Regions from separate parts of the Homo sapiens genome. Here all the other regions are linked to region 1. The links come from fine-mapping of genetic effects on gene expression. A gene starts in region 1. Each other region holds a variant in brackets. All regions are shown on one strand. Distances are from middle to middle.

Evidence for each region. PIP is the estimated chance that this variant, and not a neighbour inherited with it, causes the effect. A credible set is the group of variants that fine-mapping cannot tell apart.
Region 2: its variant is the best candidate, but not a certain one, in a credible set for the expression of ZNF415 in prostate (GTEx, PIP 0.68).
Region 3: its variant is the best candidate, but not a certain one, in a credible set for the expression of ZNF415 in whole blood (INTERVAL, PIP 0.56).
Region 4: its variant is the best candidate, but not a certain one, in a credible set for the expression of ZNF415 in whole blood (INTERVAL, PIP 0.68).

The regions. Positions count from the first base shown.
Region 1 is chr19:53,129,956-53,135,106 of GRCh38, forward strand. ZNF415 (zinc finger protein 415) reads right to left here and starts at 2,955. Exons shown (of 4, transcript NM_018355.4): 1 at 2,901-2,955. It overlaps ZNF347 (zinc finger protein 347), which reads right to left. Exons shown (of 5, transcript NM_032584.3): 5 at 4,980-5,151.
Region 2 is chr19:52,898,959-52,904,109 of GRCh38, forward strand. It overlaps a transcript of ZNF320 not described here. Among named protein-coding and RNA genes, the nearest start is that of ZNF320, 3.9 kb to the left of the region's middle. The variant A/G (reference allele first, on the strand shown) is at 2,484.
Region 3 is chr19:53,153,389-53,158,539 of GRCh38, forward strand. It overlaps ZNF347 (zinc finger protein 347), which reads right to left. Exons shown (of 5, transcript NM_032584.3): 2 at 345-405. The coding sequence starts at 359. Among named protein-coding and RNA genes, the nearest start is that of ZNF347, 3.1 kb to the right of the region's middle. The variant C/A (reference allele first, on the strand shown) is at 2,242.
Region 4 is chr19:53,092,634-53,097,784 of GRCh38, forward strand. All of the region lies in intron 1 of ZNF160 (zinc finger protein 160), which reads right to left. Among named protein-coding and RNA genes, the nearest start is that of ZNF160, 8.2 kb to the right of the region's middle. The variant C/T (reference allele first, on the strand shown) is at 2,079.

The DNA.
Region 1 (5,151 bases):
TCAGGAGGCTGAGGCAGGAGAATCGCTTGAACCCGGGAGGCGGAGGTTGCAGTGAGCCGAGATTGCACCACTGTACTCCAGCCTGGGTGAGAGAGCAAGACTCCAGCTCACAAAAAAAAAAAAAAAGAAAAGAAAAAAAGAAAATTCCCAGACCCTCTTTCACATATCTGAGCAAAAGAAACTTCTTCAAGGTTTTATCACATTGGTTCCAAATGCAGCTCACAGCTTACTATTTTAACAAATTACACAAAAGAAGAAAATTGAATAATAGACTAGTTAAACTAGGTTTCCATGTTAAGGTAAAAACATCATTGACATCTTTATCAGGTACACATTGAAACAATCTAAAATTACCTACTAGTCAACAAATAATGCTTCTATTATATAATAAAGAGCAGAAAGCATGCAGACCTCTATCAAAACTGGACACAATTAATTTCAAAGGGAAAGATTTTGAAATTGTTAAGAAATATCTGATGAATTTTGGAGCTAAAAAAATTGAAAACACATTATATTTAGAAAATGCCATGAGCTGATTATAGGATGCCACCAAAGTTACTTTGGAAATAATTATATACAGAAAAATAGAAACTGAATTAATGAAGATCTATCTCAAGTTGCAAAATGAACTATACATGAGATGAAAGGGAATTAGTAAGAAAAAAAGCAAATCAATTACAAAAAGCAACAACACTTTTTTTGTTTGTTCTTTGTTTTTTTTTCAGACGCAGTCTTGCTCTGTCACCGGATCTCGGCTCTTGGCTCACTGCAACCTCCGCCTCCCGGGTTTACACAATGCTTTGCCTCAGCCTCCTGAGTAGCTGGGATTACAGATGCGTGTCACCATACCTGGCTAAGTTTTGTATTTTTAGTAGAGATGGGGTTTCACCATCTTTGCCAGGCTGGTCTTGAACTACTGACCTTGTGATTCACCCACCTCGGCCTCCCAAAGTGCTGGGATTACAGGCATGAGCCACCATGCCCAGCCTCAACACTTTTAATGTTCCTTTTGAGCAACGTTGTCCAATCCGCAGCCCAGGAAGGCTTTGAATGCAGCCCAACACAAATTCCTAAACTTCCTTAAAACATTTTGAGATTTTCTTGCAACTTTTTTTTTTTTTTTTTTTTTTTTTTTTAGCTCATCAGCTATTGTTAGTGTTAGTGTACTTTATGTGTGGCCCAAGACAATTCTTCTTCCAATGTGGCCCAGGGAAGCCAAAAGATTGGACACCCCTGCTTTAGAGAGACACTATGTAGTGACAGTCTTTCACTTTCTGCCCAGCTTTACTCTCCCACTCCCCCTTCCCCTCCCCCTGCCCCAACGCCAGGGAAGGGGAAGAGGATGACCTGTGGAATTAATGAGTCAAGTCACTTCCCTCTGCCTTAACAGGGATTGCAAGTGGAAGCTAACTTCTGATGCCATAATTATAAAATGCACCAGCCTTAATAGACAGGAGCTTTGCAATTCTCATCATCTGTGCATTTTAAACTTATAAAGACAGAAATCAACAGGTCAAAAGGTAGTCATCACATCCAGTCAGTTCACAACTCACCTGGACCTGGGGTCCCCCTCTTTCCTCATTATGGTGTGTTTCCCTCCCTCGTTCCGTACATCGCTCTCATTCTCACCTTCTTTCTCTAGCTCTTTCCTTCCCCTTTATTTTCTCCCTAGGATTCTGCTCATTTTGAGCCCCTCTCCTCTCCTGCTGCTCCTCCCCGTCTTCCCTCTATTCTTTCTCTTCCACTTGCTCTTTCCATTCTTGCAATGTATTTAATTCCTCTTTCTTCCTAATCTTTTCATTGTCCCAGTCTCCACATATTTCTGGCTCTTTCTTCCCCATTTCAGCACTCCCTGTTAAATTCCCTCTTCCCTGTTACACACCGTTGTCCCCACTCTTTGGCACCCCCAGATCCCAGGCCTCCCCGTGCTGTGGTTCTCCCTCTGCTTCTCCTTGTCATCGGCTGCCCCCTCTTGCTGTCCCGGTACCACACTGCCCTGTCTGCCCTGGCTCCAAATCCCTTCTGCTCTCCCCCACTCTCTGTCTGAGGAGCCTCCTCCTTTGCTGCCCCTCTCCCTACCTGGCTGTCCTTCATCTCTCTGGATACTGTGCTTTTTCTCGAAATGTGTCTAGTTACTTTTCTCTCCCTGCTACTTTCTCGGCTTCTTCTTCCACTCTTACTGTCTCTGAAAATCTCTAACCATCCTCTACTTTGCCATCTGTTTATTGGTTTGCCTCATTCCTTCCTGTCTCAGGTTTTCTACTGCTCTCTCTGTCCCTCGATCCCTTTGGCCCACACATTCACAGGACGGTTTGGGGTAAGACGCCTGCATCCTGGAGGAGCGCATTTTCCACGGGGTGGAGGAGGGCAGGCAAGAACATCGGGTGTCACAGGACAGGCCCTGAGCACCTCCCCAGCGCGGGCTCAGGGGAGGCCTGGGGAGCAGCGGGGCCCGGCACGAGGAGGAGGGAGGTGGGGCGCGACAGCGCCTTCAGACAGGGGTGGGGTCTGCAGGATCCCAGGACCAGGCAGAGGACGCAAGGCTCCCCGGGACTGCGGCTGCAGCTGCGGCGCTGCGCTCCAGGGGCCGACGAGGGCAAGGCTGGGAGGCACCCAGGACGGGAATACACCTCTTGGGTGAAGACTTTAAAAAGCCCGGGGATGGGGGAGGGGGTCAGGAAAAGGTTTTAAGCGGGAGGAAGAAGCAAAAGGCCGGGGACGGGGAGCAGCCTCAAAGCGACTTCAACCCAAAGGGAAGCGACTCCGGACCCACACTGCGAGGCCTGTATTCACCTGGGGTGGAGTGTACGGGGATTTTAAGGGCCGTATCGACCCTGGACATCGGCTGTGGAAATGGGAAACAGGGAGCGCAGGTTTAATCTACACAGAGGGTCACTCACGCTCGACGCCGTCACCTTCACCCAACGCGATCCGTTTCCGGGCCTGTAGGAAACTGCGCATGCGCGGAGAGAAGAGCCCGGGCAGCCTGAAGGAATGGCTGGAGTGGGCGGGGTCTGCGCCGCTTTAAGGTAAAAAAATCAGAGTTGTGTGGGCCACTTATGGTGGAAACCAAAATGTTTTCCACTTACCAAGTTGAAAACGGTTTATGTTAAAACTATTTTGCCTGCAGGTTGGACCCGATCCTGCTAGGGAGTCTCCTGCAGCTTAGCAGTCCGGGAACTGGGATTTCGGTGGGGAATCCAAAACTAGCAGTGATTGGATCCATAAAAGTTACCAAAAAACAAAAATGAAGTGTCTGGAATCACTCCACTGGATTTCAAGACTACCAATATAGGAAAGGTAATAAAAACTGTGTGGTTTTGGGGCAATAAAAGACATATGGATTGATGCAATACAGTAAGAGAGTACAAAAATAGCCTCTACAGGTACTTCCAACTGATTTTTGACAAAGTTACCAAGGGAATTGAATGAAGAATTTTTAAAAACTGGTGAGGGGCTAACTTAATATCCACAGCAGGAAAGAAGTCATCTCTACTCAAACTTCACAACCGTACAGACATTAGTTCAACATTGACCATAGCCTAAATGTAAAATATCAAACCATAAAATGGTATCCTGTAGGAGACTGAAAGAAAAAATTACTCACAATAAAATCGTAAGAATCAAGAGCTTGTTCAAAAATTCTTAGCCATAGCAGCAAAAGCATGATTCATTAAAGAAAAAAAAAATCAACTGGTATTTACCAAATTAAAAACTTTTGGTCTGTGAAAGACCTTCAGACGATGAAAGAAAAGGTATTTGATATGGTTTGGCTCAGTGTCCCCATCAAATCTCATTTTCAAGTATAAACCTCAGGTGTTGAGGGAGGGACCTGGTGGGAGGTGACTGGATCATGGGGGTGGTTTTCCCCAAGCCGTTCTCATGATAGTGAGCTCTCAGGAGATCTCATGGTTTAAAAATCTGTGATAGTTCCTCCTTTGATCGCTCTCTCTCCTGCTGCAAGCAAGACGTGCCTTGCTTCGCCTTTGCCTTCCTCTATGATTGTAAGTTTCCTGAGGGCTCCCTAGCCATGCGGAACTGTGAGTCAATTAAACCTCTTTTGTTTATAAATTACCCAGTCTCAGGTTGTCACAGGAGGGTTTAGGCAGTGTGAAAATGGACTAATACAGTACTGAATAATAGAAAATATTTGCCTACCATATATCTGACATAAAACTGGTATGTGGAATGTATAAAGAATCCTAGAACGACTTAAAAAAAAAGCAAAATAATCAAATTAGAAAATGGATAGAACTATGAAGAGACATTTCACTGAAGCAGATATACTGAGATAAATGGGCACATAAAAAGATTTCCAACATCACCATCCATCAAATCTCAGACCTCAGCATATTCTGCTTTCTCCATGTGAACCCCTGGATGCTGTCAGAGATCATGAGAAACACAGGAGCTTCTACTGAACAGTCCAGTTGATGTGTATTAGCAACCTGTAATTGTTTTTGGAAACGAACAATGGAAACACAGATACAAAAATATTCTCAGCTCAAGAAATATGCACTTTGTCATTATTAGTGATTTTTTTTTTTTTTTGAGACAGAGTCTTGTTCTGTCACCCAGGCTGGAGTGCGGTGGTGTGATCTCAGCTTACTGTAACCTCTACCTCCCAGGCTCAAGCGATTCTCCTGCCTCAGCCTCTTGAGTAGCTTCAACCACACGCACGCGCCACCACACCCAGCTATTTTTTGTATTTTTAGTAGAGATGGGTTTTCACCATGTTGGCCAGGCTGGTCTCCAATTCCTGACCTCAGGAGATCCACCCCCCTTGGCCTCCCAAAGTGCTGGGATTACAGGGGTGAGCTACAGCGCCTGGCCACCACTAGAACTAACACCTCAGGTACTGGATGCCTCCTTCGAAAGATTGGATAATCGTTCTTACAGGATTATGTGGTAATGAGTGTCTCTGTCATTCATTTAGGTAAGATGCATACGCAATAGTGATCTATAAAATATAGACTTAATTGATCTATAAAAATATAGATTTAATACAAAGTTACCACAATCACAATGATATATGAAGATAAACCATTTAAAAATTACAAGAGATACTAACAAAATAGGTATAGATGGTGAGTAAAGGACAAAAATAACTAGCATTGTTACTGTAGCATCATCATTAAAAGCTTTGTCTTT
Region 2 (5,151 bases), 230 kb before region 1:
GAGTATAAAACAATATGAGAGGGTCTCTGTCTTCCTTTATTTCTTCTTTTTGAGAGTCTCACTTTTTATTAGTGGGAGTTCTTACTCTTGTTTTTGCTACTTATGTCTTTTTGTGTAATAGATTGATAGTGATTCATATAGTACACTTGTGCTGAATCATTTTGGTGAACTAAGGTAGCGATGAAGCTTTTTATCATTTGAAGAGGTACAGGTAGCAAACAAGAGAGCAGTAAGCAGCTTTTTATTACTATTATAACTCTTATTATAAGAGTTTTAAATCCTCCTATTGCTGGGAACTAATTTTTAAACATGGCTCCTGGATTGAGTCCGTGCCACACCTGTACGGGTACATGTGTCAGTTTTGTTATATTTTTAACTATGTCTTCAACTACTTTCCTCTGATGATCTATGTGTAGACAACAATTAGTAAGGTTAAATTTTCTACAAACTTTTCCTTCAGCTGCTAGCAAGTAGTCGAGAGCTAGTCTATTTTGATAGATAGCATTTCTTTTTCTTTTTTTGGTGATGGAGTCTCGCTCTGTCACCCAGGCTGGAGTGCAGTGGTGCAGTCTCAGCTCACTGCAAGCTCCACCTCCCGGGTTCACGCCATTCTCCTGCCTCAGCCTCCCTAGTAGCTGGGACTACAGGTGCTGCCACCGCACCCGGCTAATTTTTTGTATTTTTAGTAGAGACGGGGTTTCACTGTGTTAGCCAGGATGGTCTTGATCTCCTGACTTTGTGATCTGCCCGCCTCAGTCTCCCAAAGTGCTGGGATTACAGGCGTGAGCCACCGCGCCCGGTGATAGATAGCATTTCTTATCAGAGTCTCTTGCCGGGCAAGAACAGTCAAGGCTTGACCGGTTTTATTAGTAATAATTTTTAAAACAGCTTGCAACTGTATGATTCGGTTGAGCATGTAGATGGGGGTTCGATAACCTCATGAGCTGTCTTGTGTCTAAGTGGCAGGCTTACAGTATTATATAATTCTTTAGGAGGTCATTTATCATCTTTCTAATTACCTATGGCTATGCTTCGTTTTTCACAGGAAGCATAGACTGGGAAGCCTAGAAGTTCACCTGTATTTATGGGCAGTAAGAGGAAAGATGGCTTACTGGTGCCAATTACACAGCTACCTGTCCACTGATCAGGCAGCTTAGCATGAGCTCTGTCTATGTATCTGGTATAACCTGGTGGGGGCCGTCTAGTCCTGGTGGAATTCCGGGTGGGCCTCAACAGTCTGCAACTTTGGAAATTTACTGAATGGATTTCTTTTTGTGTAACTGGAACTTTAGTATGTAACTGTTTTTGTGGTACTATTATACAACTTTTGCCTAAGACAACTAAGCCGCCTTACAGGATGATGAGTGAATTTTTTTCTTTCTCTAGCTATGCAATACCGTCTAATAATTGAGACTTTTAGAACTTAAAAATTGTCAGGGTGGTTCTTTTGGGCTGGGAATTCATCAGGAACTGGGTTTGTAGGAACTAATTCTCGGGCTTCCTATGGCCATTGATCTCTTGTTACAGTTCTTCTACAAACATAACATGAGGTGACTTGTAGAGACTGGGCCTCATGTTAGGCTAATTGCAAAAACAAATTTTTAGTTTTTCCTGGAATCTTAGGTACTGGCACATTTATTTCATCATAGAAAGCCTGAAATACTGGTTCTGGAGAGCATTTTTCAACTTCTTTTTTTATTAGGATGTTTACGCTAGGATCTAGTTTTTTTTCATCAATGCTTAATTTACATTTTTTTTTTAATTGTACTTTGGGTCTGATGGGTTTGTGATTATCAATTTTAAAAGGCTGCAGCCCCCACTCATGCAAGAGGGGCTGACTTTTCTTTTTTGGAGCTAAACAGGATTATTTTTATCTTCTTTTTAAGTAGCCCAAATGACATAAGACTAGTATTGACACATCTCACATAAATATGATTCTTGACAGATATACTTATTTTTTTTTTTAACTGTGTAACTTTTTTTCTAATTTAGAGAACTGCATCTTATTCTATGCTGCTTACTATCAATAGTGGCACAAGCATCAAATTTTAAGGTTATATTTTTGGGGACCCCTCTTCTGTTCTAGCTATTATTTTACTTGTGTCACTTAGAAAAAGACTAGTCTTTAATTTTATTTTAAAAACTGTAATCATGGGAGGCTTAAAATGGGTTATAACACACATCAGGTTGGTTATTCCTTGGGCTACATACTTTGGATAGAATAGCATTATACAAACAAATTTCTTTTAGAATCCTGGTACACTTATAATAACTATAAAATAATAGGACTGTAGCAATCTTTTGTCTAACTTCAGTGACTTGATGTAGATACTGGAAACAGTTCTTTGTCTGAGGAAGGTCAGTTGAAGTCCTTACTGTACAAGTCTAAATTTTAAGGAAAATGAGTCCTGCGATGAGTTTCTTCCTGCTTCAGTCGTGCGTGGACCAGTCAGCTTCCGGGTGTGACTGCAGCAGGGCTTGTC[A/G]TCTTCTTCAGAGTCACTTTGCAGGGGTTGGCGAAGCTGCTCTTATCTACGTACAGCTCCTAGTCTACTGATGTTTAAGGGTGGTCTCAGAGGTTGGGCCCACTAGAATAAACTGAGTCCAGCACCTCTAAACAGTTATGTTTAACTGGGCTCTTTGATACTAGGAGTAAGGTGGCGGGGTTAGGGTGTTGCAAACTTCAATGGTTATGTGGGGATTTTCACAGAGCAAGCTTTGGTATCTAGTTAGTCTAGCGTTTATTAGCTAATGATGTCTTTTGTTATTTATTAAAGGGACTTTATGTTTATGTTTTGCCTAAGAGTTAGCTTATCTGCTTCTTGTGCTAACAGGGCCATTGCTGCCAGGGCCCTTGGACATGGGGGCCAGCCTTGGGAAACCTCGTCTAGTTGTTTTGAGAGTCAGGCTACTGGCCTTGGCCAGGGCCTTACAGTCTGGGTTAAAACTTCAACTGCCATTTTTTTTTTTCTTTCTGACACATAGAGTGCAAAGAGTTTTGTCAGGTCAGGTAGCCTCAGGGCTGGGGCTGACATGAGTTTTTCTTTTTTTTTTTTCTGGTTGATGAAATACCAGGGTGAAATGGACTAAACCATAAGTGCCACTCTAGTTATTCGGCAGAGTGCCTACTAAAGGTCTACTACAATACCACCACACATCTGCTCAGAGATGAACAAGGGCTGACCGATTGATAAGCTCTTGAAAATTCTTAAGCTCACTGCATCCTTTCAGGTCTCCAAGGAATGCTAAATCTCCTCTCTGCCGTGAGATACAAGAAGTGAACTTAGTATTGGGAGACGGAAGCTGGAAGGCCCTCGGGGGCTGATCCGCAGGGACTTCGGGATATAGCAGAGAGAGCTATATGTTACTCCAGGCTGTAGAATCCTGGAAAAGAGCTACCATGCAGCCCACACCTGGTCAACTACAGGACCACCTTAGTGGAAGGGGGACAATCAGGGCCTCTGGCCTGCCATGTGCACAAGCATAACAATTGCTTTTGTTTAATGTGCAGATGGAATATTTGATCTATTTCAACCAGGCATTTGCATCTTGGTATGCTGTCTCAATTGCCAAAGTTTGTTTTAAGTCTTTAACTTCTATCATCCTCTAGTAAAATGAATGCTTCCTTTAGCACCGATTTTTATTAGTTTTTAGACCAAAGAAAGCTGAACACCATTTTATATTTAATAATGCTTCTTGTATGATTTTTATACCAGATAAGCTAAATTTTACTTTTATATTAGTGTGTTACTAATGTTAAATTTAATTTTAATGAAACTTTGTAGACATATTTATCTAATTTTTCATGTTTGACCATAAGGTTAGATTTTGTAGACTCTTTTTAACTTTTTGTAATTTTTGTTAAAGAGCAGGTTGATGCTTTAAGAAAAAACCTGTTGCATTTTTACTTTGATGTCCGTTTCACAGAAAAACTGGATGATACCTTTTTAACTTTAGCTAATATGTTTACACACAGAATTTTCTTTACAATTAATGTTTTAAAACTTGCTTAAACTTTCAAACAATAATTTTTTTAACTTTTTAATATAGGTAAAAATCCACATTCTTATGCCTCCTTATAATCTTTTTACTATAGGTATATTTTACTTTTCTTATACACCTTGTACATAAACTGTTTCTTCAATAATAGGAGGCCTTATTACTTTTAAATTATACATTTTTTGCATAAAAAAATTTTTTAAAGCAAACTTTATGTCTTTGGACTAGACTGTCTAAGGCTACCAGATTAGAAGTTACTATAATACATGCTACGCTGTTAACTTTTAGCAAACTTCACTTTTGTTGAAAACCTTGTAAGTTTGGGACTTCAATTATCCTTTGCTATTAATAAGACCTTGTTTAGTCTAAATTAACTTAGAATTGGTATAGATGGCCTCTTTTTCTCTCTGCTGGTCTTTTCTTGCCTCTGCCAGCCACTTATGCTGCTGTTCTTTTAACTACTGTGGGGGGCGGGGGGAGGAGGTCTAAAACCAGGTGTAACTGTCTGTGTACTGAAACTGGTCTGGGTGCCTTGGCTTACAGGTTACCTTGTGCCATATCTTTGAAACTAGGGACCCATCCAGGCTTCCTTCTGATGGCTAACCTACCTCAAATGCTGGCCAGTCTATTTCACACAAAGTTCTAAGTTTTCCTGGGGTCACAGTTACACCATAATCTCCTTTAAATTCTTTCTTGAAATTCTTTAACATATTTCTTAGTGGGGTGGGCTTACTTTGTGCCTGAACTATGTTTTTTTTTTCTTCTGAGACAAAATGCCATGCTCACACCACACATACTCACCACAAGAATGGGTAAAGAGGGCACACACACGCACTTTTACCGTTTATACCAAACCAAAATCATGAAATTCAAAATCTGAGTACTAAAAAATTCAAGCCAAGTCAAAACCAAAACTAAAGTATCTAACAATTCAAATCAAGTCAAAACCAGAACAAAAGTGCCAATGCAGGCATGCTGTGGGTGATCAGGCCACGCTTCCACTCAGATGGAGTGGGGCAAGTTCCAAAGACTAGTCTTACTAAGTAAAGCCAAGTCAAAACCAGGACAAAAGTGCCAATACAGGCATGCTGTGGGTGATCAGGCCACGCTTCCACTCAGGTGGAGTGGGGCAAGTTCCAAAGATTAGTCTTACCA
Region 3 (5,151 bases), 23 kb after region 1:
ATCCTGCTCCACAGAGAGCTGACAGTGCATCCAGATGTGGCCCCTGAACAATCCCTGCTGCCCAACAGCACTGACACCACAGGACCCTCACCCCGTCTCCATCCATGTCTGGGTGTGAGCCCTTCCCAGGACCATGCCCAGTGCAGCCTCTTCCCAAGCTCATGTCACTGGGTCACGAGAGATGGAATCTAAGTGAGATGAGAGGGACTGAGGGAAGGCACGCGTAAGTGCGAGCAAACCTGTCAGGCAGGACGCTTCAGACTCAGAGAAGATTCCCAACTTCAAAGAATGACATTTCAAGAAGAAATAAGAGACAGAACAATCCACTGATAATATTACCTTACCTGGGTGAGAGCCATGCCTGACTTGTCTTTCTTTCCTCTTCCTCTTCTTCAAGGGTTCTTCCTTAGGTAACAGGAAAGTGCCTTTAGAAGTCAATATTGAATATCCAAAATGTGCTGTTTATTGCTCAGAATCAACACATCCCCTTCCTATGCCACAATCACACACACACACAGGGAAGACCTCACCCTGTGGAAAGATGGTCTCAGCTGCCCACTGCACCAGGGCAATGCAGGGACAAGAAGCTCCTATGGGAAGATCAATAAGTGAGTTTCTGACCCCTTTCTTCAGAACCCACTCTCCTCCTGGAGAAGCCCACACACACGCTGCAGCAATTGGGAGCTGGGCTGGACTGAGCTCCCCCATTCAGGGCACAGACCAAGCCCTGACCAAACCCCATGCAGAGAACAGCCTCCCTCACCTCTCTGTGGATTGCAGGCCAATCTCAGGCCTCAGAAACAAAAGGTAGAGGCTGAACGTGGTGGCTCACACTATAATCCTAGCACTTTGGGAGGCTGAGGCAGAAAGATCAGTTGAGGCCAGGAGTTCAAGACCAGCCTAAACAACATAGTGAGACCCCATTTCTCTTAAAAAAAAAAAGTAATAAATTTAGCCAGGCACGGTCACTCACGTCTTGTAACCTCAGCACTTTGGGAGGCCTAGATGCTGGATCTAGAGTTCACAGGAGAGGCCTGCAGGTGACATGAAGCTGTGCAGGTGGGGTTGAAAGCCATGAGCTGAGTTGATAAGGAAAGGCAATGAGTGCGGACAGAGAAAAAAGTGGCTGGAGGACTAAGCCCACGTTCAGAGAACAGAAAGTTCTGGAGACACAAGAAGAGGAAAGCATAATGTGATTAGGGAGGCAACAAGAAAATTACAACAAATAGATGTGTAAAGCTTAACGGGATGTCCTAAAAGCCAAGAAAATAGAAGAGAAAGTGAGCAACTGTGCCACATGCTACTGATAGGAATGGAAAGATGACAGGAAATTAAACATTGAATTTCAAATGGATCCATCACTGGTAAATGAAAAAGAAAGGATCAGTGGAATGTTGGGTATGAGAGCTTGATTCAAGCAAGAGTTCAAGCAAGGACTGAAGGCAAGAATTGAACATAAAGTAAAAAAAAAAAAAATTGTAGTGTATTGTGCTCTTAAACGGAGCATAGAAGAGTACTTACTACAGACTGAAAGGTAGTTTAGAGTTTTGTTTTGTTTTTTTTTTTGAGATGAAGTCTCACTCTTGTCACCCAGGCTGGAGTGCAATGTTGCGATCTCGGCTCACCGTAACCTCCGCCTCCCAGGTTCAAGCGATTCTCCTGCCTCAACCTCCAGAGTAGCTGGGATCACAGGCGCGTGCCACTATGCCTGGCTAATTTTTGTATTTTTAGTAGAGACAGTGTTTCACCATGTTGGCCAGGCTGGTCTCGAACTCCTGACCTCAAGGGATCCACCTGCCTTGGCCTCTCAAAGTGCTGGGATTACAGCCGTCAGCCACCGTGCCTGGCCAATTTAGAGTATTTTTTGTTTTAAAGATGGAGCGTAGAAGAAAAAAAGACTTTATTCTGTGTGTGTGTGTGTGTGTGTGTGTGTGTGTGTGTGTGTGTTTGTTTTTTGTTTTTGAGACAGGGTCTCACTCTGTTGCCCAGGCTAGAGTGTGACAGCATGAACATGGCTTACTGCAGCCTCAAGCTCTCGTGTTCAAGCGATTCTCTCACCTCAGCCTTGCAAGTAGCTGGGAGCGCAGGTGCAAGCCACCACATCCAGCTTATTTTTTTCTATTTTTCGTAGAGACGGAGTCTTGCTATGTTGCCCAGGCTGGTCTCGAACTCCTGGACTCAAGCAATCCTCCCACCTTGGCCTCTGAAAGTGTTGTGATTACAGGTGTAAGCCGCTGTGCC[C/A]AGCCCTGTGTACGTGTCTTAATGGAGAACACCACTCCCTAGGTACAGGGATGAATTCCCTTGAAGTTAAAATTTTGAAAGCTTTACAGATTGTGAAGGAAAAAAAAAGTTAAAATTGATGGCACGCATATTGTCCTGAGACTGTGAGTGAGGCTGGTACATGGTACACAATTGCAGGGCCAGCAGCAGCCAGAAGCAGGAACAGGCCATTCCCAGTCACTACTGAGTAGAGATCACAGGTCCTGACAGGTGGGTGGGCCACTTGGAGGTCTTTTCCTTTAGTCTTTGAGATAGGAAAAAACCCAACTCTACATTCTGCTCTCACACTAAACACAGAATACTTCACCTCTAGTCACCAAAATGTGTGTGTGGCTTTTCCCACAATGACCAGGGGACTCCCAGGGGACTCCCAGCTCGGGGGGGGGGGGGGGTTAGGCGGGGGTCCTACAATTTCATTCAACTCTGATATTATCTACAAGACAGCATGGGCCGGGCACAGTGGCTCATGCCTGTAGTCCCAGCACTTTGGGAGGCCAAGGCAGGAGGATCACTTGAGGCCAGGAGTTAGAGACCAGCATGGCCAACATGGCAAAACCTCGTCTCTACTAAAAATACAAAAATTAGCTGGATGTGGTGGTGCACACCTGTAATCCCAGCTACTTGGGAGGCTGAGGCAGGCAGGAGAATCGCTTGAACTCGGGAGGCAGAGGCTGCCTTGAGCCAAGATTGCGCCACTGCACTCCAGCCTGGACAACAGAGCGAGACTGTTTCAAAAAGAAAAAAAAAAAAAGACTGCATGACGAGGTGCTACAGGTTCAGAGCTCAGTCTAAAACTGCCCCTCACTTCAGACACAGTATGCCAGTGGTAACTGTCACTTATACTTTTGAGTGACCTGATAAATACTGTGGTTCTCTTAACCCCTCCTCGGCTTTGATTAACTTTCTAGGACAGCTCTTCCTTCTGACTGTTCATCTGTATCTTCTGTAATATCCTTCATAACAAATGTGTAAACTAAGTGAAGTGTTTTCCCTGAGTTCTTTGAGCCGCCCTCACAAATTAATAGAACCTGAGGTGGTGGGGAGGGGGATGTCAAGGGAATCCCCAGTGTATAGCTGGTCGCTCAGAAGTTCAGGTACCAACGGGAGACTTACAACTGGCACCTGATGCGGGGGCAATTTCGTGGAACTGAGCCTCAATCAGTGGGATCTGATGCTAACTCCAGGTAGAGAGTTTCAGAATTGAGTTAAACTATACGACACTCAGTTAGTGTCTGATAGAGAACGGGTTGTTGGTGGGAGAAATCCGCACACATTTTCGTGAGTGGAGGCGAGACACTGTGTAGAATGTGCCCTGTTGTATTGAGTGTGACAGGAAAGAAAATCAAAGGAAAAATATTTTTTCCTCTTAGTTCATACACTCGCCCACACCCTACCCTATTCCAGGAAAAGGGAAGTGGGTGGACTCAAAACTAAATGAGCGAAGTCACTGCCCTCTGGTTTGAATAGTGATTGCAAATGAAGCTATACCCTAATACTAATAATTGTCAAATGCACGTGTTACGCATTTTACATAAAGGAGTTTCTTCCATTCTCATTTGCAACTGCATAATTTAAGTAAACGTATTTTAAATGTGTTGCATTATTTTAAACCCAGAAACCAATGTCACAATGTCATCATCACATCTAATCAACGCACCACTCACCTGGACTCAGGGTCCCTCTCTTGCTTCCATACTGTGTGTTTCCCTCCCTCATCCTCTACATAGCTCTCATTCTCACATTAGCTTATTTTTTATTTTCTGTGTTTTTCCCCTGGTTCTTTGCGCGTCGTTCTGAGCCCCTCTCATCTCCTGCTATTTCTCCCCTTCTTCCTCCGCTTGCACCTGTTCTGTCCCATTCTGGGGCCTTGTTTCAACTCTGATTCCTCTTTCTCCCCAGTCTTTTCATTGTCCCCAGTCTCCATATATTTCTGCCTCTTTCTTCTCCCATCTCTGCTCCCTCTGTTGAATCTCCTCTTCCCTTCTACACCTCTTGCCCCACTCTCTGGCACCCCCAGATCCCAGGCCTCCCCCTGCTGTGGTTCTCCTTCTGCTCTCCTCGTCACCGGCTGTCCCCTCTTGCTGTCCCAGCACCACGCTGCTTGTCTGCCCTGGCTCCAAATCCCTCCTCCTCTCCCGGACTCTGTCTGAGGAGCCTCCCACTTTCTGGCCCTCTCCCTACCTTGCTGTCCTTCATGTCTCTGGACATCGAGCTTTTCTCTACATTTCCCCAGTTGCTTTTCTCCTTCTGCCTTCTCAGCTCCTTCTCTTACCATCTGCAAATCCCTCGCCCATCCTCTACTTTGCCATCTGGTTACGGGTTTCCCTCACTCTTTCCTCTCAGTTTTTCTACTTCTCTCTCTGTCTCTGCCCCTTTCTCTACCTGCTAATCCCCTTGGTCCACACATTCACAGGAAGGTTTGGACTAAGACGCCTGCATCTTGGAGGAGCGCATTTTCCAGGGGCTGGAGCTGGGCAGGCAAGAACACCGGGTGTCACAGGACAGGCCCCGGGCACCTCCCCAGCGCGGGCTCAGGAGAAGCGGGGACTGCGAAGGGGAGGCCTGGGGAGCAGCAGGGCCCGGCACGAGGAGGAGGGAGGTGGCGGGGCGACGGCGCCTTAGAAGAGGGGTGGGGTCTGCAGGATGCCAGGACCAGGCAGAGGACGCGGCCTCGCCGGTACCGGGGCTGAGGAGCTGCGCTCCAGGGGCCGACGAGGGCGAGGCTGGGAGGCACCCAGGGCGGGAATCCACCTCGCGGGCGAGGACTTTAAAAAGCCCGGGGCGGGAGGAGGGGTCAGGAAAGGGTTTTAAGCGGGAGGAAGACGCGAAAGGCCGGGGACAGGGAGAAGCCTCAGAGCTACTTCAACCCAA
Region 4 (5,151 bases), 37 kb before region 1:
CCCTATACAAAGTAAAACTAGATTATCAAATATTAAATGGCATCGTATCTACTAGCAATAATTTTATGGCAACATCTGTGAATTTACCTCTACTTTGAAGTATGTTTGCCTCTCACATCCCCACATGTGGAAGATTTCATCAATGGAAAAGTGGTGATTAATTGAAAATACAATTGTTTAGACAGGAAAAATAGCATATTTCACAACTACATCTACAGTTTCAAAAGATATGGTGTCTGGGATAGATTTGGGGACTTTTGCAAGGTAGACTGCTCTGTGTTACGCAATATTGCTAAGTACCTATGTTGACAAGAAAGCAGTTTCAGCATGGACTTCCATGATCCCAAGCAAAGAAATGATTTGATTTTGGATCTTTTCATTAAATTGAGAATAGTAGGGGTGAATCTGATTATAGATGAAAGCCATGAATCCATTTTGTATATGCAGAGTTTAAATGCTTATACATTTTCATTGAAGCAAAATCAACATATTCACAAGAGATTTAAAAAGGATATTTCTGGCCGGGCACGGTGGTTCATGCCTGTAATCCCAGCACTTCACTTTGGGAGGCCGAGGCAGGTGGATCACCTGAGGTCAGGAGTTCAAAACAAGCCTGGCCAACATGGTGAAACGTTGTCTCTACTAAAAATACAAAAATTAGCCAGGCGCGGTGGCAGCGCCTGTTATCCCAGTTACTAGGGAGGCTGAGGCAGGAGAATCACTTGAACCTGGGAGGCAGAGGCTGCAATGAGCCAAGATCGTGCCACTGCACTCCAGCCTGGGCAACAGAGCAGGACTCCATCTAAAAAAACAAAAAAAAAGAAGAAAGGATGGAAGGGGGAGGCTTAACCTTTGCTATCTGCTAGGATTACAGGGTCAAAATCGGCTTCTACATTGTCAACACATAACACCAAGTGAAACTCAAAACTAATGAACTTGCCCTGGTACCTTGGCCTTTGAGACTCGGCACTGAATCCAGCCTGGGCAACATAGTAAGACCCCATCTATACAAAAAAATTTAGAAATTATCCAGGTGTGGTGGTGCATGTCTATAGTCCCAGCTATTCAGGAGGCTGAAGTGAGTGTGAGATTGCAGTGAGCTATGATCGCACCACTCCAGCCTGGGTGACAGAGCCTGTCTCAAAAAACAAAAAACAGAAGAAAAAAGCTTTGAAGGGCACTCAGCCTTCACTGTGGGTGTACTGAATGTTCCTGTCACACATAAGAGACATCATTAACTGCTAAAGGAAAATTTCAGCTAATTGAAAAAATGAGATGCACCAACTTCATTTCAAAGCCATATACATTTAAAATTCCCTTACAATTGTGTAATAGATCAACAATTGAAAGATAAGGAAACAAGGCATTAGTGATGCACATGCTCCAATGAGACCCCGATATCATACAAGGTAACACTCCAAACTATTTTATCTTCCAAAATGCATCCGAAAGCTTCTTGATCTACAACACAAAATACTCCAAAATACCAAAGGTAACCCAGAAATTTATCTCTGAGATTTTCCCTATAATTCCTCTATTTTAAAAAGTATTCTTTATGTTTAAGGGAATGGTTGGCGACCTAAATTACCAGATACCGTTCCTCCACACACCCTGGTCCAGGGTCCTTGAAACGCCCCTGGACCTAAGCCCAGAGTTCTCTTTCTTCCATCCCGGTGCCTGGCAAATAGAAATGGAAACGATGTTCCGATCGTTGTCACTATGAAACTGAACACAGCACAAGTAGAAATTTCACCTTCGTTTCATCCTCTAAACAGACAAATCAGGTCCCGGATTAATTAAACGGTTCTAATTGCCAGTTCCAGGATGAAACCACTGCCCCACAGGGACCATCCGCTGATGCCCCTGCACCCCTCCTGGTACCCTGAGCTAAGATGAGTTGTGATCCTCTTAATGGTAGGATGCCTGTCTCCACCTGCAAACAAAATGAGTTTTTCACTTAAATCGTTTTCAATGTAAGAGTAAAAAAACCTTAGCCTTCAATTAAGTGGCCCAGTACCATTCTGTTCTTTTGCCTTAAATTGTTTGAAATGTTGGATTAACTGAAAATAAGCAGGAAG[C/T]GTCCCTGGACTGAAAATAAGCCGGAAGCATCCCTGCTTATTAACTGAAAATAAGCAGGAAGCATCCCCGGCTAATTTCAATTAGCTGAAACTTTATTTTAGCAGTGCAATGCTGTTGATCCAGTCCTAGTGGAGAGAAAGGCTGACATAGCAGAAAATGACCTGGGGCCAAGAGGAGTAGAGAGCCCAGGCCCGCTCCTTTCCCGGCCCTGCCCGCTTCCCACAGCCCAGGCTGCACCATAGCAGCTTCCACCCTCCCATCCCGCCGCCCTCTTCCAGCCCTTTCCCGTTGCCCAGACCCCAGCCCAGGGCGACTTTTACCCTTCTCACCCCACCCCTTCCCCACTGCCCAGGCCCCGCCCCCACGGTAGTCCCACCCTCCCACCCCACCCTCTTCCACCCCTTTCCCATTGCCCAGACCGCACCCCAGGGCGACTTTCACCCTCCTCACCCCGCCCCCTCCCCACTGCCCAGGCCCCGCCCACAGCAGTTCCACCCTCCCACACGACCCTCTTGCACCCCTTTCCCATTGCCCAGACCCCACCTCACGGTGGCTTCCACCCTCCCCACCTGGCCTCTCCCCACTATCCAAGACCCGCCTCTCGCTGGCGACAGCTCCCTCCCAGAATCCGCTTCCAGTTTTCTCACCGGCAGGAGAGCATTCAGGCCTTTCAGGGCACTCCAGCCCTGTCCAACCACACTCGGAATCCACCATCCCACCAGACGTTAAAATCCCCAGGTGCGCTCATGGGATTGGTAGCGAGTCCCAGCGTTTCCGCGGGAAACTCTGAGACCCGGTGGCTCTGCAGCTTGTCTATGATTTGAACCCTCCCCTTGATTTGGAGACTGGATTGCTCTTTTTAATACTCCCAGTTGGTGGCTGGTGTGCTTCCCAGCTGTCCGCAGGTTTGTTCTCATGAGAGATGACTCCAGAGTGTCTAGTCTTTGCTTTGCATAACGGATGAGGAATACAAAATGTCTTAATCTTATGAATATATAAATTGTCTGTTTATGCACAATGTTCAGTCGTTTATTCACTCATCTCCCGTGGAATCCTAAGCACAATTATAAAAGAGTCACGTTACATGAGATCAGCGTCTAACACAAAGCTTCTGTCTCAATAACAGTAAATAATAATAGCAACATTAAATGAAATATTAGTATTGCTAAAATGGGAGTGTAGTAAAAATTAAATAAGTAAATAATTAAAAGGAAATGATATATGGTCAGGTGCGGTGACTTATGCTTGTAATCCCAGCACTTTGGGAGGCCGAGGTGGGCAGATCATATGAAGTCAGGAGTTCAAGACCAGCTGACCAACATGGTAAAACCCTGTCTCTACTAAAAATACAAAAAAATGACCCAGGAGTGGTGGCACATGCCTGTAGTCCCAGCTACTCCAGAGGGTGAGGCAGGAGAATTGCTTGAACTCAGGAGACAGAGGTTGCAGTGAGCTGAGATCGCACCACTGCACTCCAGCCTGGGAGACAGAACGAGACTCCGTCTCAAAATAAATAAATAACTGAATGAATGAATGAAATATTAGGCCATTTTTATGGTCTTCACTTTGGGAGACTGATGTATGCAGGGGTGGACTGCATGTTTGTCCTTGGGGTGGTCTTTTTCGTGAGAAGGGAGCTGAGCAGGACTAACTGAGGGGCAGAGCCAAGGGCCCTTCATGGAGACCACTCTGCTTACCAACCTGTGGAAGGGCAAGCGCAAGTCCACCCAGAAACACATCTGGCTGACTATGGGATCCCTGTCTGAGGCTCAGCAGACCCACGTGGCCAATAAAAGACCCTAAATTCTGCAAAAAGAAGAGTTTGTCTCTGTGCCCAGGCCCCTCCATGGAAAAAAGGTCCTGGGGTCTAAGATTTCTCACTTGGCAATGATGTTGGCTTGAATATTATTCACAGACCCAGATCCTTGGGTCTTGCGTGGGGCAAACTGACTGCAGAACTGCAGGAAGTGAGAGTCTGAACAGAGCAGCAGAAAGGCAGGCAGGAGACCTGAGGGAGGGGAGAAAGGAGAGAGACAAACAGACCAACCCGTCCTCTCCCTCAATCACCCGCCTGGGGAAGCATTAGTTTCCCATCATAGAGAGGACAACGGGGAAAGGGAGAAGCGTGTGCATAGGATGAGATGTGTGTTGGGTGGACAGAAAGACTCCTTTCCCTAAATGTGACCCCATTAGCTCACCCCATTCTATTGCACAAATTCCTGAGCGGAGGGGCACCCTGTGGGGATGAACACAGCTCTTCCTGCCTCCAGTTCCTGCGTCTCCCTGCCATGACCAGGGCTGTAACCCTCCAACTCCCTTCCCAGGGCCCCGTGGCCCCTCTGCACTGGAGAAAGGTCCATGTTCCACAGCGGGTTTCAAGGACCTTGCCCCTCAGCTCCCCAGCTGCCTTGTGACTCTGTGACTCTGTTATCTTGGAATAAACAGGGAGAGGCCACCGGCCTGGCTGCAAGAATGTGGCAGCTTTATCTTCCCAAGGACAGTCCCAGTGGAAGCCTTTGGGCCGCAGGTCAGTGTGCTGTGTTTCACTCTGATTCTTGGAGAAATCTTTCCCTTACTCTGGGACCCTGATAATCACTCCCTCTTGAGTTGCACCCACAGACGCCCCCACAACAAACCCTCCCTAATGAAAGCCATCTGCGCCTGATTCTTAGGATCCCCGTTGCCCTCTGGACTCAGACACGCTTACAAACTCCCACACTCCCCATATACTTCATAAAGATCCCACAATCCCCAGATACTTCATAAAGATCCAGAAGCCCTGTTATGAAATCTCACAAGCCCCAGTAACTCATGGAATAATATACACAAACACCCCAGGAACTCACTGACCCAGGGCAACGTATTTCCACTCATAGTGACTCCACCCCACAGGGGAATACCACTGAAACCTACCAATAAAACAGAGATGTCTCTAATGATGCAATTAGACCCCAACATCAGGAAAGGAAACACTCCAAATGATCATTTCATCTTCCAAAACACAACTGAAAGCTTATTGATCTGCAACTGAAAATACCCCGAATGCCAAAGGCAACCCAGAAAATAATCTCT